Homo sapiens: one gene and its partners. The protein of the gene in region 1 binds, or shares a complex with, the protein of each later gene. Each region holds a gene or a part of one and is shown on either strand. Other genes may lie near its edges. The genes, in order: RAD9A, RAD1, HUS1 and RHNO1. A codon is read from its position in the direction of its gene.

Region 1 (7,034 bases):
TTCATTCATTTTTTGAGACAGAATCTCACTCTGTTGCCCAGGCTGGAGTGCAGTGGCGCGATCTTGGCTCACTGCAACCTCCACCTCCCAGGTTCTAGCGATTCTCCTGCCTCAGCCTCCTGAGTAGCTGGGATTACAGGCACGTGCCACCATGCCTGGCTAATTTTTGTATTATTAGTAGAGATGGGGTTTCACCATGTCGGCCAGGCTGGTCTTAAACTCCTGGCCTCAGGTGATCCACTTGCCCCGGCCTCCCAAAGTGCTGGGATTACAGGCGTGAGCCATAGCGCTCGGCCTACTTTTTTTTTTTTTTTTTTTTTTTGAGAAAGGGTCTGGCTCTCTTACCCAGGCTGCAGTGCAGTGGCGCTATCTCAGCTCACTGCAATCTCCACCTCCTGGGCTCAAGTGATCCACCAGCCTTGGTCTCCCACAGTGCTGGGATTAAGCATGAGCCGCCGCGCCCGGCTGGTTTACACATTTTTAAATGTAACACCTATTTATTCATTATTTACTGAGTGCCAGACCCTGTGTGAGGTACATACAGCAACAAACAAAACAGACATGGATGCTGGGTGTGGTGGCTCACGCCTGTAATCCTAGCACTTTGGGAGGCTAAGGCAGGAGGATCGCCTGAGCCCAGGAGTTCAACTCCAGCCTGGGCAACAGAAGGAGACCTTGTCTCTAACAAACATTTAAAAAATTAGCTGGCTGTAGTGGCATGCGCCAGTAGCCCTAGTTACTCGGGAGGTTGAGGTGGAAGGATCGCTTGAGCCTGGGAAGTTGAGGCTGCAGTGATCTATGATCGTGCCACTACACTCCAGCCTGGGTGACAAAGCAAGAACCCATCTTAACAAACAAAACAAAACAGAACAAACAAAACAAAGCCAAGGCCGGGTGCAGTGGCTCACGCCTGTAATCCCAGCACTTTGGAAGGCTGAGACGGGCAGATCAGTTGAGGTCAGGAGTTTGAGACCAGCCTGGCCAACATGGCAAAACCCCATCTCTAATAAAAATACAAGAATTAGCCGGGCGTGGTGGCACACACCTGTATTCCCAGGTACTTGGGAGGCTGAGGCACAAGAATTGCTTGAACCCCAGAGGCGGAGGTTACAGTGAGCCGAGATCGCGCCACTGCCCTCCAGCCTGGGCGACAGAGCAAGACTCTGTCTTCAGAAAAAACAAAAAACCAAAAACCAGACATGGTTCCTGCCCTTGTGAGGCAGACACACTAGTGAGGAAGACAGATGTTAAACAGGCAAACACACGCATGAAATAACGTGATAAGTGCTGTGGCTAAAACAGGGTCTAGCTAGAGTGTAATGGGATGCTGGTGGGGGCAGAAAAGACGGCACTGAGCCTGGAGGAAGAGAAGCACCGCCACGTTAGAAGGGGTAAGACGATGCCAAGTGGTGGGGACAGCTAAGGATGTGCTAAAATCCCCAGGTGGAAAAGGAAGTGGAGGGTTCAGGGAGCCCACAGGGTTGGCATGGCTGTGCAGGTGATCAAGGGGAGGCCACAGGTGGAGAAATGGGTGGCGGCGGCTCCTGCAGGTTCAGGGCAGAGTTTGGATTTTATGGCAACCACTGGAGTGTGCAAACACGGGAGAGGCATGACACAATGGACATTTTAGGAGGGTCACTTTGCTGCTGTATGGAGAGTGGCCTGGAGGGGGCAGGGTGGAGGCAGGAGACCACTGAGAGCTGTTACAGTCATCCAGGTGAGAGGATGGTGGCCTAGGCCTTGGAGATGGAAGAGGAGGGCAAAGTTGCCACCTGTTAAGTTGCCACCTGTTTGGGAAGCAGAGTGGTCAGGACTTAACTGAAAGACTGTGTAGGGGTGAGGGCGAGCATGAGGTCAAGGATGACTCCAGCATACTGAGCCGGATGCCCAGGGACAGGGGCACTATTTCCATGGATCCCCCGGGAAGGGGAAGGGAAGAGTAACCTCCTCCCCCAAGGCTCCACGGAAGGGGCAAGGGCTGGTGACGAGGGGAGCAGAAGGGAAGGAGAGGGAGAAACAAAGTGTATGCATGTATCCAAATGTGTACAATTATTATGTATCAATTCAACTCATTTGAAAGTGGGTCTGGAGAGCAAGGGTGGCAGAGATAAATATATCTTCTGCACTACCACAGGACCTGAGGGGCAAGGCACGGGCAGGCCCTGCAGGAATACAGGGATGCCCTGGGCCCTTCCAAGAACTACCAGAGCCTTGGTACTGTGGGGAGAGTAGGGGTCAGTGAGTTTCTCCAGGACTCCCTTACATTTTACACACGTGGACCCGGAAGCCCAGGGGAAGGGGAATACCTTCCAGCTGATGCATCCCCACCTGGCACACAGTCTGGTTTTTTTTTTTGAGATGGAGTCTCACTCTGTTGCCAGGCTAGAGTGCAGTGGCGCGATCTCGGCTCACTGCAACCTCCGCCTCCGGGTTCAAGCAATTCTCCTGCCTCAGCCTCCAGAGTAGCTGGGACTACAGGCGCGTGACAACATGCCCGGCTACTTTTTGTACTTTTAGTAGAGACGGGGTTTCACCATGTTGGCCAGAATGGTCTGGATCTCTTGACCTCGTGATCCGCCCGCCTCGGCCTCCCAAAGTGGTAGGATTACAGGCGTAAGCCACCGTACCCGGCCAGTCTGGGGTCTTTTAAAAATACAGACCCGGGGCTGGGCGCGGTGGCCCATGCCTGTAATCCCAGCACTTTGGGAGACCGAGGCGGGCGGATCACTTGAGGTCAGGAGTTCGAGACCAGCCTGGCCAACATGGTGAAACCCGTCTCTACTAAAAGTACAAAAATTAGCCAGGCGTTGTGGCAGGCGCCTGTAATCCCAGCTACTTGGGAGGCTGAAGCAGGAGAATCGCTTGAACCTGGGAGGCGTGATCGTGCCACTGTACTCCAGCCTGGGCGACAGAGCGAGGCTCTATCTCAAAACAAACAAACAAAAAAACCCCACACACACACACAAAAAACAAAAAACAGGCCGGTGCAGTAGCTCACTCCACTTTGAGAGGCCAAGGCGGAAAGACAGCTTGAACCCCACAGTTGAGACCGGCCTGGGCAACATGGCAAGACTCCGTCTCTACCCAAAAAAAAAAAAAAAAAAAAAGGGCCGGGCGTGGTGGGTGTGCCTGTGGTCCCAGATACTCAGGAGACTGAGATGGGAGGATCCCTTGAGCCCAGGAGTTCCAGGCGGCAGTGAGCCGTGTTCGCGCCACTGCACTCCAGCCTGGGTGACAGAGCAAGAATATGTCTCAAAAAACAAACAAACAAAAAAAGGCACATAACCACGATCTACCCTCGTAAAACGTTTCCAGAGCGTCCCAGCGGTGCCCCTCATCATCTGGCGGCCCCTACGCCTCTCTGAGACTCACAGACCTACTCCCCTCTCCAGGGGGCGGAGCCCACACCGCTGAGCATTTACTCTTGTTCTTCCCTCTGCCAGGGGCACCGTTCTACCCCTTTCTGCCTGGAGAAACTGCCGTTTTTCCTTAAAGGATCCTCGAAGCCGGAAGGAGCAGCCACCTCCCACTCCCGGCTGCTGCAAGCAAGCTGCTTTGACTTCTTTCTAGAGTTGGGGATTGCTGCTGGAGTCCGAGTCTCAGGCCCAGAGTGGGTGCGATGGTCTTGCTTGCACCCTGTATCCCCCGGCAGACGCCCGGGAACTCTACTAAGTGGGTGACCCCAGAGAGCTCGCCCCCACACTCCGACTCCGAGTCCAGCACTCGGTCCACTGCACAGGGACCTCGCGCCCCACAGCTGCGTCCTCTCTGACCTTCGCAATCCGGTGCGCGGCCCGCGGAACGCCCCGATCTCCAGGGGCACGGAAGGCCGAGGCGTGCCGGGGGAGCCAGGAGCAGCTGGCTGGCGGGCGCCGCGGGCCTCCCCGGTCACGTGACACCCCGGACAACGTGCGCCGTCACGTGACGGCAGAGCCTGTGAGCGTTTTTCTCACGTGACGGAGGCGCCTGCACGTGGACCAATGGGGAGGCGGGGGCGGGGCCGGCAGGGGCGGTGCGCGGGAAGGGACCCCGGACCCGGAGGTCGCGGAGAGCTGGGCAGTGTTGGCCGCTGGCGGAGCGCTGGGGCAGCATGAAGTGCCTGGTCACGGGCGGCAACGTGAAGGGTGAGTGCAGGTCGGCCTGGCAGCGGCGGTGCAGCAGCCGCGGAGCCGCCAGCCTAACCCCCTTCCGCTCTTCTCCCCGCAGTGCTCGGCAAGGCCGTCCACTCCCTGTCCCGCATCGGGGACGAGCTCTACCTGGAACCCTTGGAGGACGGGGTGAGGGGCTAGGGTGTGGGGGGCGGGTGGGACTCCAGCCGGGAGCGGGTAACCCGGACTAGAGTCTCGCCCCCACTAGGCGGGATGACCGCTGGCAGATTTGTCGGCAAAGTTTCAGTTTCTTAGTCTGGCGGCTGTCATCTTCCCAGGCCGGTGTGTGAATTGAGGAAAGCTGTCCTGCGAGCTCCCAGGGGGTGACGTGCACTTAGAGAAACTCGGGGAAGGCCTGGGTGTGCGACCCCTCCTCTGCGGCAGCAGCGCCGGGGCCGACTCTGAAGGCTTCCATGGGGAAAGGAGGGTTTTTCAGCAGGTGGTGGCGGAGCGGGAGGACGATAGGGCAAGTGTGTGAGCAGAAGCAGCCAGAGGGCTGGGTCTGTGGCTGCCCCCTGACCACGTCCCTCTCCCTGCTCTTCGTGGCCCAGCTCTCCCTCCGGACGGTGAACTCCTCCCGCTCTGCCTATGCCTGCTTTCTCTTTGCCCCGCTCTTCTTCCAGCAATACCAGGCAGCCACCCCTGGTCAGGACCTGCTGCGCTGTAAGATCCTGATGAAGGTGAGGCCCTTCCCTCAGCAGTGGCACTACTCCACCCCAGGAATCTCCACCAGCTGTGCCTCTGCCCTGGGGTACTCAGTAGATGCTAAGTGGGGAGAGAGACACGTGCAAGCCCAATCCATGCAAAACACAGGGAGGGCCATGGTAAAAGCATCACAGCGGGGACCTGAGAGGGTGGTGACGCTCAAGTTCGTCAAGAAAGGTAAGCACGTCTTTTGGCCGGGCGCGGTGGCTCACGCCTGTAATCCCAGCACTTTGGGAGGCCGAGGCAGGCGGATCACGAGGTCAGGAGTTCGAGACCAGCCTGGCCAACATGGCGAAACCCCGTCTCTACTAAAAATACAAAAATTAGCTGGGCGTGGTGGCACGCGCCTGTAATCCCAGCTACTCGGGAGGCTGAGGCAGGAGAATTGCTTGAATCCGGGAGGTGGAGGTTGCAGTGAGCTGAGATCGCACCACTGCACTCCAGCCTGGGTGACAGAGCGAGACTCCATCTCAAAAAAAAAAAAAAAAAAGGTAAGCAGGTCTTTCAAGGCATTCCAAGCATAAGGAAGAGCATGAATGAGGCCTAGAAGGATGCCAGTGCCCGAGGTGACGTGGGAGCCCTTTTCCCAGAGTTACATGCTGGGCCCATGATGGGTGTGGGCCTGCATGGGACAGGAGAGCTTGTTGCAGAGATGTGATGCTAGGCTGAGGTGTCTTATCCCATGCAGTCTTTCCTGTCTGTCTTCCGCTCACTGGCGATGCTGGAGAAGACGGTGGAAAAATGCTGCATCTCCCTGAATGGCCGGAGCAGCCGCCTGGTGGTCCAGCTGCATTGCAAGTTCGGTGAGTGGGCAGCCGGCCAGCCAAGGGGTGCCTCAGCAGGGAGGTCGGCGAGGCCCACTGAGACCCTATCGCCCATCCAGGGGTGCGGAAGACTCACAACCTGTCCTTCCAGGACTGTGAGTCCCTGCAGGCCGTCTTCGACCCAGCCTCGTGCCCCCACATGCTCCGCGCCCCAGCACGGTGAGCACACCCCTGCCCTCAGCTCAGCCCCGGGTCTCTCTCTTCCTTCTTTGGGGCCCCAAGGGGTTGATTTTAGAAGGTACCTCTTTCATTTTCCCTACAGAGTTTCTGTGAACCTCAAAGACATCCCATGGCCCGCTATGTGCTCAGGTCCTTACCTGGCTCTTTAAAGGCAGACGGTGGCATGGAGGAGGGGCAGGCGCCTCCTTGCTCCATTCTCCTTACTGTTAGGAGCCTGCATTCTCCATCCCAAAGGTCTGACTTGACTTTCTGGCTGCTCAAACCCATTCCAACTCCTCCTCTAGGGAGCACATTTCTGGCCTGCCACCAAATCTCTTGTCTGGCTTGAGTAACCTTGAAGGTCTGCCCATAACCTGTGGCTCAGAGGCTCAGACCCCTTCTCCGGCCTGGGCATCCTTCCAGAGGTGTTCCCCATTCAACGGCAGCCTCTTTTCCTGACTGCCCAGGATCGAGGAGTCCCCAAGGCCAGGGCAGGAGGCTGGAGGGAGGCTGAATAATCAGCTATGGGGTGGAGCTGTTCTGGGCAGTCCGAGCACTGGGGGCTGTCTGGGGCCAGGGAAATGGGGACTCCAGTTGAAGCAAACGTCCCTGGCGAGGACCAGCTCAGAGAGGAGTGGGCTCTCCCCCTGCTCCATGCTGGTCACTGCTTGCATTCAAGTGGCCCAAGGTCCTGCTCATTTCTCAGGGTGACTGAAGATCCCTTTGGGTCCTGACATCTGTTTCCCCAGGTTCTTTTGAGCCAGCACTGCTCAGAGCTCTTTTGGGTAGTGAGAGACGGGGGCCAATTCCTTGGTCTGCATTTAGGGTGGTGTCTTTTTTTTTTTTTTTTGAGACAGAGTTTCGCTCTTGTTGCCCAGGCAATGGCACGATCTCGGCTCACCACAACCTCCGCCTCCCGATAAAAGTGATTCTCCTGCCTCAGCCTCCCGAGTAGCTGGGATTACAGGCATGCGCCACCATGCCCGGCTAATTTTTTGTATTTTTAGTAGAGACAGGGTTTCTCCATGTTGGTCAGGCTGGTCTTGAACTCCCGACCTCAGGTGATCTGCCCGTCTCAGCCTCCCAAAGTACTGGGATTACAGGCGTCAGCCACCACACTCAGTCTCTTTTTTTAAAAATGAGCAATTGTTTCTCTCGTTTTGTTTTGAGATAGAGTCTCGCTCTGTCACCCAGGCTG
Region 2 (7,018 bases), on another chromosome or scaffold:
CAATTCCACTATTATTAATTATACATTTTCTAATACAGTGTTCTCCAGCTAGTTTTTCACAGAAGCATCTGTCATCTTCCATTCCTCACTGTGGCTCTCAATCCAGTAAGGAGAAGGAGTTTGAATATCCTGTCATATTCCTCCTTCCCTCTAGTGGTTTGCAGAGTTAAAATTTACACCACCATTAACAACCCTCTTTTTCTCTCAATTTGATTTTTAAATTCGAGGAAATATAAAGAATATCTCCCAGTTGGAAAAGTTGGAAGGATCCTTGTCATAGTGAGTACACTGACGTTACAGTACAGATGACAGCAATCCACTGTTACACACATTGAACCTTCAAGGAATAGCATACCCTGTTCTGCAGCAATTTAGTTACTTGCTGTGTTGATCCATATAGATTCTCTACCCTGAAATTGTACATATATAAAATCAACAAGCTATTTCTGAGGTGTGTATGACAACCTGAAAATGATTCCAAAGAATTATGTTACATTTTGTTCTGGTTCCCAATTTTCTTGTAGTTTTGGAATTCTCTACACACAACTGTCATCAGGGAAGATGTCATCCCTTTTTATGAGGAGATACATATATGTGAGAAATTGGGCGGAATAAATTATTCTTGAGAAATTTTATGTATCATTTCGAGGAGAAGCTGAACCCAGAACTATAAAGCTAAGGCCAAGTATGACTTCTTTCCATTGCAGGGACTTTAACTGCACTTCGAATGTGTTACCAAGGTTATGGTTACCCTTTGATGCTGTTCCTGGAAGAAGGAGGAGTGGTGACAGTCTGCAAAATCAATACACAGGAACCTGAGGAGACCCTGGACTTTGATTTCTGCAGCACCAATGTTATTAATAAAATTATTCTGCAGTCAGAGGGGCTCCGTGAAGCATTTTCTGAATTGGATATGACGAGTGAAGTCCTACAAATTACCATGTCTCCTGACAAGCCTTATTTCAGGTACTTGAGAGCAGTGCAGTTATAGTTAATGTGGTCTGTACTCCATCTTCCCACTTAGACATTTGCTTAGGATGCAAAATTTTTATTATCCACATTTTTAGAGTTTTCACAACTTTAGACAGCTTGTACTCTTACCTCATAATTTTATGGATCAAGAAACTTAAGACCCAGGAAGATTAACTCACTATTTCATATTTAGGTGGTGGTGGCATCTAGATGAGAAGCCCAGTCCTCTAATTTATAAACTGGTGGTGTTTTCATTGTACTACTCCTTACTTTCATAGATCAGGTTACATCATGAGGAAAATTGGGTTTAAGTGTTTGGAAAGGGTGTTTGTATTATGGTATCTTTTTCAAGTTAGTTCAGGATGCAGAAGAAGATGTTTTCTACACGTGGCTCATTCATTCACTAAGTATCTGTTGATCACCTACCGTGTGCTTATTCATCTTATTAAGCATTGTGGGAAGAACAGCTTAAAACCAAGGTGAAGCCAAGAAAATGTGAAACAGCAAACCATTAAGTACCAAGATAGCACACACAGATACCTGGGAAATGCTGTATAAGGATTTAGGGAGGATTGCTCAAGGCTGGCTTCCCAAGGGAGGGCAGTTTTCAGCAGGAGTACAATGTCAAAAAAGCTGTTCTTGATAGTTTAACACAAGTCTCTTTTCAGGATTAGACTCAGAGATTCTAGCAATTTAGAGAGAGGATCTAAATATTCTCTTTTTGAAATATTTCAGAATATTAAAGCCCCTAAATACATATGGAATAAAAGGAATAAGGTATTCTTTTTGTAACTACTTTAGAAGAATTACAGGCCCGGCTGTAAAAGTGCTGTGGCAGACACCTGTAATCCCAGCACTTTGGGAGGCCGAAGTGGGCAGATCACTTGAGGTCAGGAGTTCAAGACCAGCCTGGCCAATGTGGTGAAACCCTGTCTCTACTAAAAATAGAAAAATTAGTTGGGCGTGGTGGCACGTGCCTATAATCCCAGCTACTTGGGAGGCTGAGGTGGGAGAATCACTTGAACCCAGGAAGTGGAGGTTGCGGTGAGCTGAGATTGCGCCACTGCACTCCAGCCTGGGTGACAGAGTGAGAATCTGTCTCAAAAAAAAAAAAAGAAAAGAAAAAGAATCACAGGCCCTTGTCATGACTTTGGGGAGTTAAAAATTTGGCTCAAGGTCTGAGAAAGTTAACCAAAATGGAAATTGGAAACCTTACTTTAGCAGTGGAATGAAGTAAAAAATTCAGGTACTTAAAACAGTATTTCAGGGGATCTCCTCAGTGATCTCTCTCAGCCTGGGTAACGAGATGGACCATGGTATCTTTCATCTCCAGGATGGGAAACAATTTGGTGGTAGGGAGGTAGGAGTTGAAATTTTTTCCTGGATATGTTAAATTTTAAGTACCTGCGACACTAGGGAGTGGCTGGATATGTAGTTATGGTGCTCAGGAGATCCATTTAGACTGGAAATTTAGATTTGGGAACCATCATCATGGCTGGGTATGGATGAGACGGGTCAGAGAGAGAGATTATATTAGAAGAAAGAAAAGATGGACCCCAGGAAAACCACACCTGGAAGATGGGAGGCAGAAATGGAGCTTAGGGAAAACCAACCTGGATCTTATCGCCATGCTCATATAATACTTAGCAACGTGCTAATCCTGCAGCAAATGTTCCAGGAGTTCTTGCAAATTAAATCAGCATGTTAACACTTATAAATTGTCTACAAATAACTTCTGGTATTACCAAGTGAGGAAAACCATGCAATAGCCTTAAGAGCAGTCTAAGATACAGAAAAGCTGTAATTCCTAGGTGTAGGATTGGGAACAGACCTAAGGGTTGCAGTAGACTTAGATCAAGGTCTTCCATGAGTCCTCAATTCTCTCGCCTGTTATATATTTCTGACTTAAGGATGAGGAAAAGTCATTTTCAGAGTAGGATTAGGGTAATGAAATTAAAGTGTCCCCTACCCTTTTCCTTTTACAATTGATTTTCTTCAAACCCATTGATTAGTTGTCCTGAACTCCAGTGGGAGCTTTATTATGGTACTTGTTATCGTGTGTTATAAGCATTTGTGTACATGTCTGTTTCACCCACTAGTATGAATTTCTTAAGGAAGTGTTTTCTTTATTTGGATCCTAATGTGGTTTATTTTTGGATGAATGAATAAATGAGGTAATCATTTTCTATAGGTTATCTACTTTTGGAAATGCAGGAAGTTCCCACCTTGACTATCCCAAAGATTCTGATTTGATGGAAGCATTTCATTGTAATCAGACCCAAGTCAACAGGTCAGTTCTTAATATAGAGGTTGTCATTGGTGATAAAGAGGAGGTTAAATACCAGATTTCTGTTAAATAAAAACACTTTCAATCTGTTAATTAAAATGCACAGCATTTTATAAAAATGAATAGTAGAGTGCTGGACTTACTAGGGGATGTAGGGTTCTAACAGTGAATGAATTTTAAAACAGAAAATATTAGCAAATTGGATAAGTACTTGATTTTATTCTTAGATTTGCTACTTTTTATCCTTTACTTGGGAGTTCTGAGCAGTGTTCACTGTGTTGATATAACAGCGTTTTATTTTTTCTTCTACAGATACAAGATTTCCTTACTGAAACCCTCTACAAAGGCATTAGTCCTATCTTGTAAGGTATCTATTCGGACAGATAACAGAGGCTTCCTTTCATTACAGTATATGATTAGAAATGAAGATGGACAAATATGTTTTGTGGAATATTACTGCTGCCCTGATGAAGAAGTTCCTGAATCTGAGTCTTGAGTATGACAATTCACTGATATTTATGTGTACATTTATGATAGATGAAGTTCTTATTCTGAGTACAGTACTCTTTGTCATTTCATATTGGATTTTCTATAGAGAAGAAGCACAATGGGGAAGATAGGAGCAAGGTCATGTACCCTAATAGTTACTATGTTTTGTAAATCCATTTTGTAGAGGGCATGTAAATAAATGTTTTCCTGTAGTCATAGATTATTCAGGACTGTCCTTTAGTTCTGTCTTTTGAACTCATGGGAATAATTGTGAGTCAGCGTAACATTTCAAGAGTCTAAAGGTGGCCGGGTGTGGTGGCTTTAATCCCAGCACTTTGGGAAGCCGAGGTGGGCGGATCACCTGAGGTCAGGAGTTCGAGACCAGCCTGACCAACGTGGAGAAACCCCATCTCTACTAAAAATACAAAAAATTAGCCGGACGTGGTGGCACATGCCTGTAATGCCAGCTACTCGGGAGGCTGAGGCAGGAGAATTGCTTGAACCCGGGAGGCGGAGGTTGTGGTGAGCTGAGATGACGCCATTGCACTCCAGCCTAGGCAATAAGAGCAAAACTCTGCCTCAAAAAAAAAAAAAAAAAAAGTCTAAAGGCTTAAAGTTTGATGCAGCTACCTGAAATGATCTTTTATTTATTTATTATTAGAAAAAGCAAAGGCATATGGGCATTGCTTATTAGTTTGAATTCTAGAGACTAGATCTTAAAGTAGTGGTTCTCAAAGTGTTGTGCCCGCACCAACATCAGAATGGCCTGCAAACTTGTAGCAAACTCTGGGGAGGAGGCCAGCATTCTGTATTTTAACAAGCTTCCCTCAGGAGATTCTGATGCCTGCTAAATTTTGGGAACCACTGTTTTAAAGGAAACTTTTTTTTTCTTTAATAGCATTTAATTGTATGAGATGATTGCTTTTACATGTGATTTCCTTGCAAATGTTCTGAAGTTGAGGCATCACCAAACAAGTCTGAACAATTCTTTATGTGATTTATTTTTAAAGTAGACCTTTTGAAGAGATCTATGAATGGGATATAAAGCAATTTTCAGTGTTACAGGTTTTCTTCTTCTTCTCAAAACTGTTTGCTGTAAGTAACTGCAATCAGTACTTACTACTTTCCATTTGCTTATGAGTTTCTTGACAAATCAAGGTGTAGAAAACCAGTTATTAAGTGATTTTGTACTTTCCTGGTAGTTGTCACTAAAATAATTTTTGTGGCATATAAATATATTTAATAAAATGCAAAAATTATCTTCCTGTCTAGTAGAAAAAATTACATGAGTAAAGTGAAGCTTCTGTCTTTGTTACTGTACCAGGTGACAACAGCTGAGTGTCCCTCCATGGACAGTCACTATTGGCCTTTTGAGTGAGACAGTTCTTTAGGATAAAAACCTGTCATCCCATTGCAGGATTCATTTAGCCTTTCTGGCCCTTACCCACTGATGCTAGTCATTGTGACCACCCCACCTCCCCCAAATAAAAGTGTGCCAAACTATTCATTGTTGAGAACCATTCAATTGTATTCACCAAAATTGGAGGATATATTGGAATGCCCTACCTTAATATAGGTCACATAGCATTAGAGAAAATTGGTTTGGAGAGTATTACAGCAAAGTGTGCTGCAAGGAGGCTACTCCAGCACAATGGCAGGCACTGCTTCCCAGGCATATGGACAATTCTGGGAGGTGGCCAGGGTCAGCACCTGATAACTAGTAAGTGTCTCAATCTCAGCATACAAAATTTAGCAGTGACTACAAAAGAAGTTGGAATTTTCTAAAATGTTTGTATTCAAGAAGGAAACAAATGAATTTACTAAATGTTGTCAGAGTATTTTTTGTTTAGATAACCACCAAGAACAGAACAAACCTAAAAGATACTTGGGAAAATATCTAATCAGTCAACATTCTAAGGACTGTTAAATGTGAAATAGCATAGTTATTTTTTGTCTTTTGTTACTAGTGTGAACAAAGAACGGCGCCTAACATATAATGGGCATTTAGTAACTCTGTTAGATGAAAGACTCTCCAATTTCAGATTTTCTTTTAGCATCTTATTAGTCACTACTTAATTCTGATGATTTAGCTCTAAATTTATTTTGATCTCAGTTTTTTTATTTTTATTTTTGGAGACAAGATCTTGCTCTGTTGCCCAGGCTGGAGTACAGTTGTAGGATTACAGTTCACTCCAGCCTCAATCTCCTAGGCTCAAGCAATCCTCCCATCTCAGCTTCCCAAATAGCTACGACTACAGGTGCATGCCTCCATGCCCTGCTAATTTTTGTATTTTTTGTAGAGATGGGGTTTTACTATGTTCCCTAGGCTAATCTTGAACTCCTGAGCTCAAGCAATCCACCCGCCTCGGCCTCCCAAAGGGCTGGGATTACAGGCGTGAGCTATCATGCCTGGCCTAATGTATTTTTTAAAAGTTGAATCTAAAAAGAATTTAAAACAAATATAAATCAGCTCAGTAAGGATGGATATTTTTGTACATTTAAAACTATTATTTTAGGCCGGGAGTGGTGGCTCACACCTGTAATCCCAGCATTTTGGGAAGCCGAGGCAGGGGGATCATCTGAGGTCAGGAAGTTCGAGATCAGCCTGGCCAACATGGTGAAACCCCTACCTCTACTAAAAATACAAAAATTAGCTGGGTGTGGTGGTGGGTGTCTGTAATCCCAGCTACTTGAGAGGCTGAGGCAAGAGAATCACTTGAAACTGGAAGGCGGGGGTTGCAGTGAGCCGAGATTGCACCATTGCACTCCAGCCTGGGTGACAGAGCAAGACTCCGTCTCAAAAACAAAAAAAATTAAAATAAAAATTATTGTTTTAGCTGCATGTCTTCAGCTATTTAGAATTCAAAGACTAATGAATTGTTTCTAAGTCACCCTAACATCAAGGTACTTATTTTATAAAGAATTTCCTCCTTATTTGTGTTCTAATTGACCCAGGAATTTTTACTTTAATAAAAGTTTAACTTTATTTCCTATGGAAAATCACTAGGGGGAGTGCTCCCTCAGGCAGAGCAGGCGACACTTTGGTGCCACTACAAATTGATGTGTAGTATATAGAAGAATACAGTCTTATATTTAAAGACTTTTAGTTCTGTCTTTTTGAAGTTTATCTCTCTTTCTAGTAAAATGGTGCTTACTGTGAATGGATAATCTTTTTTTTCATTTTTCATTTGTTGATTTCCCATTCGATGATGTAGTGCTTCCACCGAGAATTGATGAAATGCTTCAAAATAATAAAAGTATTTGTTAAAT
Region 3 (7,816 bases), on another chromosome or scaffold:
AGAAAGCAATTATAATATCAATAACCCAATAGAAAAATGGCCAGTAAACAGATCATCTAGAGACGCACATGAAAGATATTCAAGCTTATTTACTTAAGAAAAATGGCAAAAATTATACTGTACCATGTTTCACTGATGAAATTAGAAAGATCCAAAAGTTTGATAATGTTTTATTCCAAGGCTTTGGGGAAACAGGATCTCTCACACGTTGCTGGAAGAAATGCAAATAGGTATAACATTTATGGAGGGAACTTGGCCTATCTATAAAAATCGAGATGAATATATCCTTTGACTAAAAAACTTACCATGTGCAAAATGCCGTATATAAAATGTTATTCATCAGTAATATTTCCCAGGAGGAAATAAGGGGGTGCAGAAGGGTAGGGATGAACCTCTCCTTCCTTTGCCACTTTAGCTTTAGCTGGTAAATAAACATGCTCTGTAACCTCTTCTGTTACTTCACTATACTCTCCTTCCTTTTCCACTATGAAGCGTTCCTACCTCTCTGCCTGCCTTTGAGTCTCTGCTGAAATGCAAGTGATAATGGCTGACTCTGAATAAATAGGCTTTGCCTGTTCCATTTGGTTGGTCTTCATTTATTTCCACACTATCAATTGTTTTCCTGAAGGTCAAGTGTAAATAGAGCTGGTCCAGTCAGCAGGAGCATGTGGGTCACTGGACACTCAGCAATCCAGTGATGCAGATTCTCATCAAGAGTGTGAGGTAGGGCATGCCATGGCCAACATTGCCAATTCTATCTGTCCCCATCTTTAAAATGGGAATAATAGGCCGAGCATTGTGGCTCACACCTGTAATCCCAGCACTTTGGGAGGCTGAAGCAGGCAGCTCACCTGATGTCATGAGTTTGAGACCAGCCTGGCCAACACAGTGAAACCCCATCTCTACTAAAAATACAAAAAATGGTCTGGGTGTAGTGGCAGGTGCCTGTAATCCCAGCTACTCGGTAGACTGAGGCAAAAGAATCACTTGAACCCAGGACTCAGAGGTTGCAGTGAGTCGAGATTGCACCATTGCACTCCAGCTTGGGCAACAAGAGCAAGACTCCATCTAAAATAAAATAAAATAAAATAAAATGGGAATAATCATACTTATTTTACGTGTGTTTATATTATCTAAGTGATGATATCAGTGCAGAGTGCTATAAAATGAGAGCTATCTATCTCACCCTACTGATCAATAATATTTAAATAGTGCTTTAAAGGCATCCAATAAATGTTGATCACCCTCCTCTTGAGTAGGGGCTGGTCCCCTTCCTTAATCCCCATCACTCACCACCATGCCTGACACTTCTCATGTGCTCCACAAATCTTCATTTAGAAAAGTATCTATGGAATTTATTGAAGAATTTTTTTGACACCTAAAAGAGGAGAAGAGTCTTTGAAGAGCTGCTTAAGCAAAAACCCATCTCTTAGAACAAGTACAGTTGTCAAAAGACATTCACTCATGCCACCTCTAGGGTATGCTTTCCTTCATTTTACAGTTTTCTCATGTTAAAAAAAGAAGACAAATACTGCCTTTCAAATTTGATGCGTAACATGTGAGCTAGTCACGTTGTTTCCCTTGGGTAATTTTTCCAACATTAACTGCTAACAACAGGGCTGCAAATTGCTGTCTCTTCCCCCAGGGACTAGAGAAGATGAGTAAGTACCTGAAAGAGACTGGCCAAATACTTACCTAGACAGAGTTTACCATCTGCAGCTGTAGAGAGGTTATTTCCCTTACTTCCAACTATATGCATCCTGAATGACATTTTATTTGCACCACTGTTTATTTCAGTTTCTAAGACAAGATTAAGGCATTTACCTCCCCACTAAACAAACTTAATGAACAGCGTGAACACTGTTTCCCAAATCATTGTGTGACTGAATTACTAATCCCTGACATTTGGCAGTTCTTAAGTCAGAAGGCAATTTACTGTAGCTAGATGAGAACATGAATATACATTGCATTAGAAAACTCAGTGGTACATGGGGCTTCTAGAAATCTCTAGAGATCACATTCCTTGCCTCAAAATCATTTGGAAAGTAGAGAAGTAGTGTCAATATACTTAATTGTCAATTCTGAAGTTAATGAATTAATTTGCTAAACCTGTTTAAGAAAATTGCAAGAGCACATAAAAGATTCCTTTCTTCTTCCAAGAAAAGATAATTGCAGCTTTATTTTCTATTTCTTGAGTCAAATTCCTATATTATTTGGGCTTTTGTCCATGCAGAATGTATCATATCACATCTTCTTAGGAAGTTTAAAAAATTGCTTTATCAGTTTTTATGACATAAAATTAAGCAATTTACACTAAAGATCAAGATGTTACAAAACATTGTTTACAAAGTTTATTTAGATACATTCTTTAATTATATTCATTTATCTACTAGCAGCCACTTTATTTAATGTGATGCTCAACTCTTCAAAACTCATTCATGAGGAAATTAAAAAACAGGCTTTTTCCTGCAGATCATATGGGGCAAATAAAAAATGTTGGCATGGCCGGGCTCAGTGGCTCACGCTTGTAATCCCAGCACTTTGGGAGGCCGAGGCGGGCGGATCACGAGGTCAGGAGATCGAGACCATCCTGGCTAACACGGTGAAACCCCGTCTCTACTAAAAATACAAAAAATTAGCCGGGCGTGGTGGCGGGCGCCTGTAGTCCCAGCTACTCGGGAGGCTGAGGTAGGAGAATGGCGTGAACCCGGGAGGCGGAACTTGCAGTGAGCCGAGATTGCGCCACTGCACTCCAGCCTGGGCGACAGAGCGAGATTCCGTCTCCAAAAAAAAAAAGAGTTATGCCAACATTTTTTTTTTTTTTTGAGACGGAGTCTCGCTCTGTCGCCCAGGCTGGAGTGCAGTGGCAGACCTCTGTTCACTGAAATCTCCGCCTCCTGGGTTCAAGTGATTCTCCTGCCTCAGATTCCTGAGTAGTTGGGATTACAGGCACAAGCTATCACGCCGGGCTAATTTTTGTATTTTTAGTAGAGACGGGGTTTCATCATGTTGGCCAGGCTGATCTCAGACTCCTGACCTCAGATGATCCACCCGCCTCGGCCTCCCAGAATGCTGGGATTACAGGAGAGAGCCATCCTGCCCTGCCTGTTGGCATAACTTTGAAAGTGATCTATTAAGTTTGGTTTGGCAAACACTCGCATATGACAATGAAGATTAGAATTTTGCTTCATGTTATAGTCTTAAAATAGGCAAAAACTGCAATTTTTGTATTTTGCACCTTTTTATTATTATTACACTTTAAGTTCTAGGGTACATGTGCACAACGTGCAGATTTGTTACATAGGTATGCATGTGCCATGTTGGTGTGCTGCACCCATCAACTCATCATTTACATTAGGTATTTCTCCTAACGCTATCCCTCCCCCAGGCCTCCACCCCCCAACAGGCCCCAGTGTGTGATATTCCCCTCCCTGTGTCCATGTGTTCTCATTGTTCAACTCCCACTTATGAGTGAGAACATGCGGTGTTTGGTTTTCTGTCCTTGTGATATTTTGCTGAGAATGATGGTTTCCAGCTTCATCCATGTCCCTGCAAAGGACATGAACTCATCCTTTTTTATGGCTGCATAGTATTCCATGGTGTATATGTGCCACATTTTCCTTATCCAGTCTATTATTGATGGACATTTGGGATGGTTCCAAGTCTTTGCTATTGTGAATAGTGCCACAATAAACATATGTGTGCATGTGTCTTTGAAAATTATCTGGGCCTGGCGCGGTGGCTCACGCCTATAATCCCAGCACTTTGGGAGGCCGAGGTGGGCAGATCACCTGAGGTCAGGAGTTCGAGACCAGCCTGGCCAACATGGCGAAACCCCGTCTCTACTAATAATACAAAAATTAGCCGGGCATGGTAGCTTGTGCCTGTAATCCCAACTACTTGGGAAGCTGAGGCAGGAGAATCCCTCGAACCCGGGAGGTGGAGGTTGCAGTGGGCCAAGATCACGCCATTGCACTCCAGCCAGGGCGACAGAGCCAGACTCCGTCTCAAAATCATCATCATCATCATCTGCATTATCATTATCTTGATTCTATGTGTCAAGTTAAAGACAAGGTTCTAGTCTATTTGCAAAGGACATTAAAAATAACAATTGTTAACACAGATAATCTTTAGTCTTTGAAAAACCAAATTAGATACAATTGTTGCTTCATTTCCCCCTTTAAAATTTTTCCTTTAAAAAAAATCCTAATGACATTATTTATGCTAATAAGAATTTTATCGGATGTAATAAAGTTCGTCTTGAGGCAAACTGCAGAATTATCACTTAACGTCAGTGTTCTTTAAGCTTCCCGACTTTACCAACTAGCCAGTAATATGTTCAATTTTTTTAGAAGTCATTTGAAACAATTTTCAGAACCTTAATCCACCAAGATGCTTCAATACCAAAGTACCAGTACCGTCATCTGAGGCTGGAGGGTTTAAAGCTGCTCTACCTTAGGTATATTTAAGATAATATTGTTTAACCTTTATAAACGATTAATTTTATTTGGATATTTTAAAATAACACTTGAAATAGGTGTCACAAAATTCTTTCAAAACGTGAATTCTCAGAACAACCTCCCCGAATCTGGGGCTTGAAGCCTCCGCCTCACTAAAAGTAGATCCCACCATTACCCGGCAGCGCGGAGGCATACCCGGAGACTGGGACCCCCACCTCCCCCGGGGCGTGACCTGTGATCCTTGACCCGTGACCCCACCTCCTCTAGGGCGTGACCCCCTAGCCCCACCTCCTCCGGGGCGTGGCCCGGAGATAACCCTGGTAAGAGTCGCGTAGCCCGAGCCGGGCGGAACCACTGTTCGCGCTGCCGTGTTTCCGGGCGGGGACACTCAGGGCGCGACGCTTTTCTGTTACCCACAGAGGCCCGCCGCGGCTGCGCCATCCGCGGCCATGAAGTTTCGGGCCAAGATCGTGGACGGGGCCTGTCTGAACCACTTCACACGTGAGCAGGGAGGCCGGAGAGGAGCGAGGGAGGAACGGAAGGAAGCAGTGAGCGCGCGGTGGGGACCGCGCAGGAGGATCAGAACGGGGATGGGCGCCGGAAGGGGCCGCGGGAGGATGGGGCCGGGATGGGGGTGCTGGTGTAGGCCGCGGGAGGGTGGGGCCGGGAGGGCGCGGGGCGGGTCGGAGGGCACTTGTGGGGATGAAGGCGGCTTTCAAGGGACGTTTCTGAAACTTGATTCCGATCACGTGGCTTTAAAAAAAAGCGGCCACTGCTCCCATAGACGGCTTTATCAGGCATTGACATACCTTCAAGGCCCCATTCGTCCCTCCACCCTGACAGTGCCTAACCTTGCATTTAACTGTGTATTGCAGTACCTAGTAGTCAATAAATCCATGTTGAATGAATGAATGACTGGTAGGTGCCTGTTTTCTTATTTGAACACTGATGATGTGTGCTGTACATCTCCCCTAGTTTGTTGGGAGAATTGCGTGACATCAGGGGTATTAAAGTACTTTCCAGTGTGATACCAACGTTAAGTGGTTATTTTTCCACCGAGAAGTTGATGAACAAGAAATTCTGCAAAATAAGTTGGTCTCTAGGATACATAATGTGCATTTTAGTAATTCCTTATTTTAACCCCTGCTTTAGGAATCAGTAACATGATAGCCAAGCTTGCCAAAACCTGCACCCTCCGCATCAGCCCTGATAAGCTTAACTTCATCCTTTGTGACAAGCTGGCTAATGGAGGAGTGAGCATGTGGTGTGAGCTGGAACAGGTGAGCAAAAGCTTCTGAGAGGCCTGCACACTCTGCAGATTGTCACTGGAAAGATCACATATACCCTCCCTCATCCCTCATTTTTTTTCCCTTAGGAGAACTTCTTCAACGAATTTCAAATGGAGGGTGTCTCTGCAGAAAACAATGAGATTTATTTAGAGCTAACATCGGAAAACTTATCTCGAGCCTTGAAGACTGCCCAGAATGCCAGGGCTTTGAAAATCAAACTGACTAATAAACACTTTCCCTGCCTCACGGTCTCCGTGGAGCTGGTGAGTAGGAGAGTCAGGGTTTCTAACACAGAAGTCTTGGCCTCGAAGGAATAGACATAGTTAGCCTAGCCTTTTTAACAATAAATACTGTTGAAAGCTGTTTGGTTTATTTAAATTTAAAGATCTGGTCCATAACTATATTTTGCATTAGAGTCAGTTCCTCCTCATTTTAAAATTGTGTTGTTATCATATGCATTCAGCTAGAATGCTGCTTTTTCCAAGCCGTGAAACTTCCAGCCTCTCTGTTTCTTGTAGTGGTATTGTCACCTTGTCTAGAAATCATGGTTTCTCTATCCATTTTCACCTTTGACATGTTTTCTCCCCACTCCCACCCTGCCTCATCTGCTATAATAACCTTTAAATGGCCCCTCGTTCTTCAGTACACGTATGTTTTATATGCTACTGCCAGATGAATTTAGTGCACAGCTGTCCTCCAAACACACAAATACACAAACTCATGCGCATACATACAATCCAGAGTTGCTCTTCCTACTCATAGAATGAGGTTCGTATTTCCTTTTTTTTGAGACGGAGTCTCTCTATCACCCAGGCTGGAGTGCAGTGGCGCGATCTCGGCTCACTGCAACCTCCATCTCCCGGGTTCAAGCGATTCTCATGCCTCAGCCTCCTGAGTAGCTGGAATTACAGGCACCCACCACCACACCCAGCTAATTTTTGTATTTTTTTAGTAGAGTCGGGGTATCACCATATTGGCCAGGCTGGTCTCGAACTCCTGACGTCAAGTGATCCACCTACCTCGGCCTCCCAAAGTGCTGCGATTGTAGGCATGAGCCACGGCGCCCAGCCCAGCTTTTCTTCATAACTCTCAACTCTTTGCAGTCAGGCAGTTCTCAGAGCTAATTAGGGCATTTCATGTCACAGTATAAGTTTGGTATGTTTTTTCTATTGCTTAAGGAAAAGCAAGATAGTAACGTATAATACTTTTTGTCCAAAAGTGCAAGATATTTTGGTCTGTGAGTCTCATAGGAGCCCCTAGAAATAAATATAGTTTGCCTTTTAACTGTTAGAAACTGCAGCACTCTGAGTGTCCTATGCCCAAAGAATGGCCTTCTCTTGGTTGCGTCAACATAGCAGGCTTGCTTCTTTCTGCCTCACGGCTTTACATGTGCTGTTTCCCCAGCCTGAAACCCTGTCCCCTTGTTCTTGTCTTCCCATGGCTGCTGCTTCTCCTGCTTTTGGTGGTATCTGAAATGTCACCTCCTCAGTCTAAGGAAACTCCCCCACACTCACCCTGGTCTCTGTGGAGTGCTTTCTCACGGCTATAATGAGCATTTCATACAGTTTCATTTGTTTGCATTTTTATTGATCTGTTTGTTCCACTGGAACACTAAGGACCTTTTTGTCTTATCACCACACTTCCCAGTTCCTGGAAGTACCCAGAGTCTGTTCCATAAATATTGGCACCATCAATATTGGTCGAATGGCTTTTGAGTGAATAAACTGACAGCATTCCACTTAGATTTGGTATTTCAACTTTTTTGTCCCGGGTCTTCGGGTTTGTTTTGTTGTTGCTTAATATTAACAACATAAAAATATTTTTAAATTCTTTTCTTGGCAGTTATCTATGTCAAGCAGTAGCCGCATTGTGACCCATGACATCCCCATAAAGGTGATTCCTAGGAAATTGTGGAAGGACTTACAAGAACCGGTGGTCCCAGATCCTGATGTAGGTGATGCCTGCAGTCCTGCTGTACACCCCACATTAAATGGCATGACTTGAATTCTCTAGTTTTAGTTGTAGTCTTGCAGTATATTTTATTTTTAAAGGATACTTAACGAAAAC
Region 4 (7,018 bases), on another chromosome or scaffold:
CCCAAGAGTTTGAGGCTGCAGTGAGCTATGATCGTGTCACTGTACTCCAGCCTGGGCAACAGAACAGGACCCCATCTCTAAAAATAATTTTAAAAATTAAAATAAAAATGTTCAGGCTGGGCGTGGTGGCTCACGCCTGTAATCCCAGCACTTTGGGAGGCCGAGGTGGGCAGATCACCTGAGGTCAGGAGTTCAAGACCAGTCTGGCCAACGTGGTGAAACCCCATCTCTACTAAAAAATACTATAATTAGCTGGGCGTGGTGAGGGCGCCTGTAATCCCAGCTACTTGGGAGAGTGAGGCAGGAGAATCGCTTGGACCTAGGAGGAGGTTGCAGTGAGCCGAGATCACGCTACTGCACTCCAGCCTGGGCAACAGAGTGAGACTTTGTCTCAAAACAAACAAACAAAATTTCCACTTTATTTATTTATTTTGAGATAGGGTCTGTCTGTCACCTAGGCTAGAGTGCAGTGGCACGATCATAGCTCACCATATCTTCAAATTCCCAGGCTCAAGTGATCCTCCCACCTCAGCCTCCCAAGTAGCTGGGACTACAGGTACATGCCAACATGCCAAGCTAATTATTCTTTTAAATTTGTAGTAGAGACGAGGTCTCTCTATGTTGCCCAGGCTGGTCTTGAACTCCTGGCCTCAAGCAGTCCTCCCATCTCAGCCTCCTAAAGTTCTGGGATTACAGGCGTGAGCTACTGCACCTAGCTTGGAGAAGTTTTAAGATAATCTTTGTGGAGAATGAGTTGATCAAGGAAACAGGATTGCTGAGCAACGTACCCATTTGAAGCTGATGACTTTCAGCAAGTCATGAATTTCAAAACTATAGCCATTGCTACCACTGTTATCTTTTCACTGGATTTCTGTGGTAGCTTTTTGTTTGTTTGTTTTCTAGACTGAATCTCGCTCTGTTGCCCAGGCTGGAGTGCAGTGGCGTGATCTCGGCTCACTGCAACCTCCGCCTCCCGGGTTCAAGCGATTCTCCTGTCTCAGCCTCCTGAGTAGCAGGGATTATAGGTGTGTGCCATGACGCCTGGCTAATTTTTGTATTTTTAGTAGAGATGGGGTTTCACCATGTTGGGCAGGCTGGTCTTGAACTCCTGACTTCAAGTAATCTGCCCGCCTCAGCTCCCTAAACTGCTGGTATTAAGGGCATGAGCCACTGCGCCCGGCCTCTCTATACTTTTTATTCCTTTCCGACTAGAATGTAAGCACCACAAGGGCAGAGGTTTTATGTTATTCTCTGGTATATATTTTCAGCACCTGGAACAGTGCCTAGCACACAGTAGGCACTCAGTAAATATTTCTCAAGTGAATGAATGAGTGAATGAACAAATGGATATATATATTTTTTGTGTTTTCTATAAGATGTTAGTTCCTTAAGAATAGAAACTTTGGCTGGACATGGTGGCTCACGCCTGTAATCCCAGCACTTTGGGAGGCCGAGGCGGGTGGATCACGAGGTCAGGAGTTCGAGACCAGCCTGGTCAACATAGCGAAACCCCGTCTCTACTAAAAATACAAAAATTAGCTAGGCATGGTGGCGTGCGCCTGTAGTCCCAGCAACTCATGAAGCTGAGGCAGGAGAATCGCTTGAACCCAGGAGGTAGAGGTTGTGGTGAGCCAAGATCGCGCCACTGTACTCTAGCCTGCGTAACAGAGCAAGACTCCATCAAAAAAAAAAAAAAGAAAGAAAAAAAGAGAAACTGTGTCCTTTTTTTTCTTAACCTGTATCTCTACTGCCTAGTCATATAAGTCAAAGCATATTATTTTTTGTTGTTGATTGAATGGATCACAAATGCATAGAACCAACCTGCTCTGTTGTGTCTTTCCAGCATGCTCAGCTGCAACTCTCATTTACCTCTCTACCTATTGCATTCAACCTTGTGTCCCACCATTCCACCAAAGAAGCCCTTATTAAAGTTGATCTGGGCCAGGCGTGGTGGCTCATGCCTGTAATCCCAACACTTTGGGTGGGCGAGGCAGAAGGATTGCTTGAGCCTAGGAGTTCCAGACTAGTCTGGGCAACAAAGCAAGACCCTGTCTCTACAATAAATAAATAAATAAATAAATAAATAAATAAATAAAACTTTAAAAAAAGATGCTCTAGGCACCTTGTGAGAAAAGTCGGGTTGGAGATGGGGGTGGAAAAAGGAAGCAGGGAACTCAGTTAGAAGGCTACCAGAGGGGCCAGGCATGGTGGCTCACGCTTGTAACCCCAGCACTTTGGGAGGCCGAGGCAGGCAGATCAGTTGAGGTCTCAACTGAGTTCAAGACCAGCCTGGCCAAAATGGTGAAACCTCATCTCTACTTAAAATATAAAAATTAGCCAAGCATTGTGGCAGGTGACTGTAATCTAACCTACTGGGGAGGCTGAGGGTGGAGAATTTCTTGAACTCGGGAGGTGGCGGTTGCAGTGAGCCAAGATCAAGCCACTGCACTCCAGCCTGGACGAAAGAGTGAGACTCCGTCTCAAAAGATAAAAGTATAGAGAAAAATCAAACAGGTCAAGGGGTTGAGTTGACTGTTATTTTAGACATAGTTATTAGGGAAGGCCTATCTAAAGAACTGCTAGTAATCCCAGTATTTTGGAAGGCTAAGGAGGGAAGGATTGGTTGAGCCCAGGAATTTGAGACCAGCCTAGGCAACACAGTGAGACCTCATCTCTATAAAAAATGTTTCAAAAAAAGTTAACCAGGTGCAGTGTGCTTGCTTGTAGTTCCAGCTACTCAGGAAGCTGATGTGGGAGGATTGCTTGGGCTTTAGAGGTTGAGGCTGCAATGATCCATGATCACACCACTGCACTCCAGCCTAGGTGACAGAGCAAGGCCCTGTCTCAAAAAAAAAAAAAAAAAAACACATAGAAAACCTGGGGTGTGGTGGCTCACACCTGTAATTCCAGCACTTTGGGAGGCTGAGGTGCGCAGATAGCTTGAGCTCAGGAATTCAAGACTAGCCTGGGCAATACAACGAAACCCTATTTCTACAAAAATACGAAAATTAGCCAGCGCTGTGGCACGAGCTGTAGTCCCAGCTACTTGGGAGGCTGAGGTGGGAGGATCACCTGAGCCTGGGAGGTCAAGGCTGTGGTGAGCCATGATCATGCTACTGTACTCTAGCCTAGGCAACAGATGAGACCCTATCTCGAAAAAAAGAAAAAAAAGAAAATGGGAACACTGGCTGGCTGGATATTTGTTAATGTTAAAGAATTTATATATTTGTTTAGTCATATTAATGGGAAGGATAGAATATATATATATATATATATATATATATATATATATTTTTTTTTTTTTTTTTTTTTTTGAGACGGAGTTTCACTCTTGTTGCCCAGGCTGGAGTGCAATGGCGTGATCTCTGCTCACCGCAACCTCCGCCTCCCGGGTTCAAGCGATTCTCCTGCCTCAGCCTCCGAGTAGCTGGGATTACAGGCATGTGCCACCACGCCCAGCTAATTTTGTATTTTTCGTAGGGACAGGGTTTCTCCACGTTGGTCAGGCTGGTCTCGAACTCCCGACCTCAGGTGATCCACCCGCCTCGGCCTTCTAAAGTGCTGGGATTACAGGCATGAGCCACCGCGCCCGGCCAAATATATTTTCTTCCAAATAATCCAGGGATAGAAGAAGTGGCTAGGGGTGTAGATGGGTCAGGATTAGCCTAGCCGACAGTTATTGGAGCTGGATAATTGGTACACAGGGTCCATTACATTATTCAGTCTACTTTAGTATATATTTGACATTATCTGGAGTGAAAAATTTTTTAAAAGCCAGGTGGGATCAAATTCTTCTGCTTAAAGTCCAAACTCATATGGTGTCACCTGTTTTTTTTTATTTGTTTGTTTGTTTGTTTTGGAGACGAGTCTCGCTTTGTCTCCCAGGCTGGAGTGCAGTGGTGCAATCTCGGCTCATTGTAACCTCCACCTCCCAGGTTCAAGCGATTCTCCTGCCTCAGTCTCCCATGTAGTTCGGATTACAGGCATGCACCACCACACCCGGCTAATCTTTTTTGTTTGTTTGTTTGTTTGAGACAGAGTCTAGCTCTGCTGCCCAGGCTGGAGTGCAGTTGCGCAATCTCAGCTCATTGCAACCTCCATCTCCTGGGTTCAAGTGATCCTCAGCCTCCTGAGTAGCTGGGACTACAGGCATGTGCCACCACGCCCAGCTAGTTTTTGTATTTTTAGTAGAGGTGGGATTTTGCCATGTTGGCCAGGCTGGCCTTGAACTCCTGGCCTAAAGTGATCAGCCTGCCTCAGCCTCCCAAAGTGCTGGGATTAGAGGCGTGAGCCACCACTCCCAGCCTAACTTTTGTATTTTTAGTAGAGACGAGGTTTCACCATGTTGGCCAGCCTGGTCTCAAACTCCTGACCTCAGGTGATCCGCCTGCCTCAGCCTCCCAAAGTGCTGGGATTACAGGCGTAAGCCCCCTCACCCAGCCATGTCACCTATTTTTTTTTTTAACCTCAGCCTGACACCATGTTTATCCTGAGTTCTTGCCATTTATCTTCTCATACTGTGTCCAGATACATTGAATTTGTAATTCCCAGAATTCACAATACTCCGTCTCGTCTCCATGCCTTTGTGTACACTGTTCCTCAGGCTGGAGTGCCCTCCTTGCTTTTTTGTTTCTTCTATGCCTTTCATACCTAGGTCAGGTATCTCCCTTTCCAGAAAGCCTCCTTTGGAATGAATGGAACCATACTGTATTCTCATACAGTGTTGTAAATGTCTGTTTCCCTTTGCTAGACTTTCAGCTCCTCGAAACAGGGATGACCTCTGTATCACTACAAGTGCTTTGCACTCAGTTAATGATTGTTGAATAAATGGTTATTCATCTTTAAATTCCCAGCACCCAGCATGACACTTAGCACATACTCAATAAATGTTCGTTAGATGAATGTTGAATATGAATATTGTGTTTTGCTTGGTGGTTGTAGGTATAGGAGGCTGTGCTCCCCAAAGCCTTGAAGTTTATGGTAGAATTGGCTGGCAGAGGATCAGGAAGAACTGGGGAATCATCTGAATTATTTGCTCCCAGCTTTTGTTTCTTCTCTACAGGCATGGGTTGGAATTGGAGCCTATCCCCCAACCCGAAGGCTAACAGCATCATGTGGTTACTAACTGTTCCTCATTCACCGGTTGATGCCTCCCAGAAAAAAACGCCGCCAGCCTTCCCAGAAAGCCCCGCTGCTGTTCCACCAACAACCACTGGAGGGCCCCAAACACAGCTGTGCATCTACACAGCTTCCCATCACTCACACTCGACAGGTGCCCAGCAAGCCCATTGACCACAGCACCATCACTTCCTGGGTAGGCCCATGGGATTACTATTTGACATTTTTTTTTTTTTTTTTTTTTTTTTTTTTTTGAGACGGAGTCTCGCTCTATCGCCCAGGCTGGAGCACAGTGGCGCGATCTTGGCTCACTGCAAGCTCCGCCTCCTGGGTTCACACCATTCTCCTGCCTCAGCCTCCCGAGGAGCTGGAACTACAGGCACCCGCCACCACGCCCGGCTAATTTTTTTGTATTTTCAGTAGAGATGGGGTTTCACCGTGTTAGCCAGGATGGTCTCTATCTCCTGACCTCGTGATCCGCCCGCCTCGGCCTCCCAAAATGCTGGGATTATAGGCGTGAACCACCGCGCCCGGCCTACTTTGACTTTTACTCTGTTAGGTTTTCCAGAATGCTGACTCTTCTGCCCGGCCTACTTTGACTTTTACTCTGTTAGGTTTTCCAGAATGCTGACTCTTCTGCCCCTTGAACCAGGGACTCCAAAGAATAAGATTCATGGGGGCGGGGGCAAGGAGTTAATGTATTCTGTCTGTGGCCAGCCATCTTCCCTGGTACATCTTCTTTTCTCAGTTCAAACTGAGGAACGGGTTAGTTGGAACTGGAGTCTTTCTCTTCCCCTATTTTCCTCTGAAAGAGTTCATTGTAAAAGTTTTTTTACCCATTAGCTGGGTGAGAATGCCAGATAAATGGCAGAACAAGTTAAAAATGAGATTGTTCCCTCAACTTCATGTGAAAGGTGGAGTACTTGGCTAGATACTCTGTTTATTGTGTAATGGATTGAACCTTGAAAAATAAAACCCCATAAGAATAGCATATGTCATATTTTGACCGCTTAAAAGCCCTGGGAAGAGAGGCCGGGTGTGGTGGCTCATGTTTGTAATCCTAGAACTTTGGGAGGCCAAGGAAGGAGGATTGCTTGAGCCCAGGAGTTCGAGACCAGCCTGGGCAACATGGTGAAACCCCATCTTTACTAAAAATATTAATAGAAAAATTAGCTGGGCATGGTGGTGCGCACCTGTAGTCCCAGCTACTTGGGAGGCTAAGGTGGGCAGATCTCTTGAACCGGGAGGTCAAGGCTGTAGTGAGCCAAGATTGTGCTACTGCACTCCAGCCTGGGCAACAGTGTGAGACCCTGTCTCAAAAAAAAAAAAAAAAAAAAAATAGAAACCCTGGGAAGAGAATATAGCTACTATACAACAGGAAAGTAGTATAGTAAAAGGGCCAGACAAAAGCATAAGCTTGGCTTAGGAGTATTTAATAAATGTAACTTATTCAGGACTGCTTGGAAGAACCATAATACCTGCTACAGGATTGTGGAAGAAACCTAAACATCAGAATCCTGTGGATGAGAGTAGGAATGAACATTTATTGAATATTCATTATATGCCAGGTCCTCTGCTAGTTCTCACCCGCTATGCTTGGAGTTGGCTATTCATTAACTGAGGGCCTTCTTTGTTCCAGGCATTCTGCTAGGTGCTGGGAATCAAGAACAAGACCACTGGTCCCTACCCTCATGAAGTTTAAAGATAAATAAGTTATATCTAGACCAGGTGTTGTGGCTTACGCCTGTAATCCCAGCACTTTGGGAGGCTGAGGTGGGTGGATCACTTGAGGTCAGGAGTTTGAGACCAGTCTGGCCAACACGGTGAAACTCTGACTCTATTAAAAATATAAAAATTGGCTGGGTGCCGTGACTCATGCCTGTAATCCCAGCACTTTGGA

What was found.
Region 2: the proteins of RAD9A (region 1) and RAD1 are in contact, whole or in part, in a crystal structure (PDB 3GGR), measured with the Homo sapiens proteins. Residues at the interface, in NP_004575.1 of Homo sapiens: Leu76 (codon at 4,820), Ser82 (codon at 5,551), Val83 (codon at 5,554), Ser86 (codon at 5,563), Leu90 (codon at 5,575), Lys92 (codon at 5,581), Leu112 (codon at 5,641), Phe116 (codon at 5,653), Gly117 (codon at 5,656), Val118 (codon at 5,739), Arg119 (codon at 5,742), Lys120 (codon at 5,745), Thr121 (codon at 5,748), His122 (codon at 5,751), Asn123 (codon at 5,754), Leu124 (codon at 5,757); in NP_002844.1 of Homo sapiens: Glu165 (codon at 893), Ala166 (codon at 896), Ser168 (codon at 902), Glu169 (codon at 905), Asn195 (codon at 3,180), Ala196 (codon at 3,183), Gly197 (codon at 3,186), Ser198 (codon at 3,189), Ser199 (codon at 3,192), His200 (codon at 3,195), Leu201 (codon at 3,198), Asp202 (codon at 3,201), Tyr203 (codon at 3,204), Pro204 (codon at 3,207), Asp206 (codon at 3,213), Ser207 (codon at 3,216), Glu211 (codon at 3,228).
Region 3: the proteins of RAD9A (region 1) and HUS1 are in contact, whole or in part, in a crystal structure (PDB 3GGR), measured with the Homo sapiens proteins. Residues at the interface, in NP_004575.1 of Homo sapiens: Leu157, Pro158, Pro161, Val176, Ala186, Lys191, Ala192, Met193, Val194, Thr195, Glu196, Met197, Cys198, Leu199, Gly200, Asp203; in NP_004498.1 of Homo sapiens: Thr84 (codon at 5,905), Asn87 (codon at 5,914), Arg90 (codon at 5,923), Ala91 (codon at 5,926), Lys93 (codon at 5,932), Thr94 (codon at 5,935), Phe110 (codon at 5,983), Ser121 (codon at 7,595), Ser123 (codon at 7,601), Ser126 (codon at 7,610), Arg127 (codon at 7,613), Ile128 (codon at 7,616), Val129 (codon at 7,619), Thr130 (codon at 7,622), His131 (codon at 7,625), Asp132 (codon at 7,628), Ile133 (codon at 7,631), Pro134 (codon at 7,634), Ile135 (codon at 7,637).
Region 4: the proteins of RAD9A (region 1) and RHNO1 are in contact, whole or in part, in a crystal structure (PDB 8WU8), measured with the Homo sapiens proteins. Residues at the interface, in NP_004575.1 of Homo sapiens: Val41 (codon at 4,715), Ser44 (codon at 4,724), Arg45 (codon at 4,727), Ser46 (codon at 4,730), Ala47 (codon at 4,733), Tyr48 (codon at 4,736), Glu130 (codon at 5,775), Leu132 (codon at 5,781), Gln133 (codon at 5,784), Ala134 (codon at 5,787), Val135 (codon at 5,790), Glu165, Tyr181, Glu183, Thr216, Phe217, Cys218, Gly244, Pro246, Val261, Leu262, Ala263, Thr264, Leu265, Ser266; in NP_001239428.1 of Homo sapiens: Thr88, Lys90, Phe91, Pro92, His93, Leu94, Thr95, Phe96, Glu97, Ser98.

The regions. Positions count from the first base shown.
Region 1 is NC_000011.10:67,387,955-67,394,988, forward strand, and holds the start of RAD9A (cell cycle checkpoint control protein RAD9A), read left to right. Parts: upstream 1-4,031; 5' UTR 4,032-4,090; coding exon 4,091-4,124; intron 4,125-4,206; coding exon 4,207-4,277; intron 4,278-4,287; exon of another isoform or gene 4,288-4,561; coding exon of another isoform or gene 4,562-4,699; coding exon 4,700-4,828; exon of another isoform or gene 4,829-5,535; coding exon of another isoform or gene 5,536-5,541; coding exon 5,542-5,656; intron 5,657-5,736; coding exon 5,737-5,836; intron 5,837-7,034. UniProt on the Homo sapiens protein: Component of the 9-1-1 cell-cycle checkpoint response complex that plays a major role in DNA repair. The 9-1-1 complex is recruited to DNA lesion upon damage by the RAD17-replication factor C (RFC) clamp loader complex.
Region 2 is NC_000005.10:34,905,502-34,912,519, reverse strand, and holds part of RAD1 (cell cycle checkpoint protein RAD1), read left to right. Parts: intron 1-707; coding exon 708-966; intron 967-3,163; coding exon 3,164-3,262; intron 3,263-3,571; coding exon 3,572-3,755; 3' UTR 3,756-6,925; coding exon of another isoform or gene 6,926-6,989; 3' UTR 6,990-7,018. UniProt on the Homo sapiens protein: Component of the 9-1-1 cell-cycle checkpoint response complex that plays a major role in DNA repair. The 9-1-1 complex is recruited to DNA lesion upon damage by the RAD17-replication factor C (RFC) clamp loader complex.
Region 3 is NC_000007.14:47,976,613-47,984,428, reverse strand, and holds the start of HUS1 (checkpoint protein HUS1), read left to right. Parts: upstream 1-4,813; 5' UTR 4,814-4,909; coding exon 4,910-4,961; exon of another isoform or gene 4,962-5,019; intron 5,020-5,612; coding exon 5,613-5,740; intron 5,741-5,835; coding exon 5,836-6,012; intron 6,013-7,591; coding exon 7,592-7,699; intron 7,700-7,816. UniProt on the Homo sapiens protein: Component of the 9-1-1 cell-cycle checkpoint response complex that plays a major role in DNA repair. The 9-1-1 complex is recruited to DNA lesion upon damage by the RAD17-replication factor C (RFC) clamp loader complex.
Region 4 is NC_000012.12:2,880,221-2,887,238, forward strand, and holds part of RHNO1 (RAD9, HUS1, RAD1-interacting nuclear orphan protein 1), read left to right. Parts: intron 1-4,941; exon of another isoform or gene 4,942-5,062; 5' UTR 5,063-5,146; coding exon 5,147-5,314; intron 5,315-5,582; exon of another isoform or gene 5,583-5,677; intron 5,678-5,732; exon of another isoform or gene 5,733-6,106; intron 6,107-6,757; exon of another isoform or gene 6,758-6,891; intron 6,892-7,018. UniProt on the Homo sapiens protein: Involved in microhomology-mediated end-joining (MMEJ) DNA repair by promoting recruitment of polymerase theta (POLQ) to DNA damage sites during mitosis.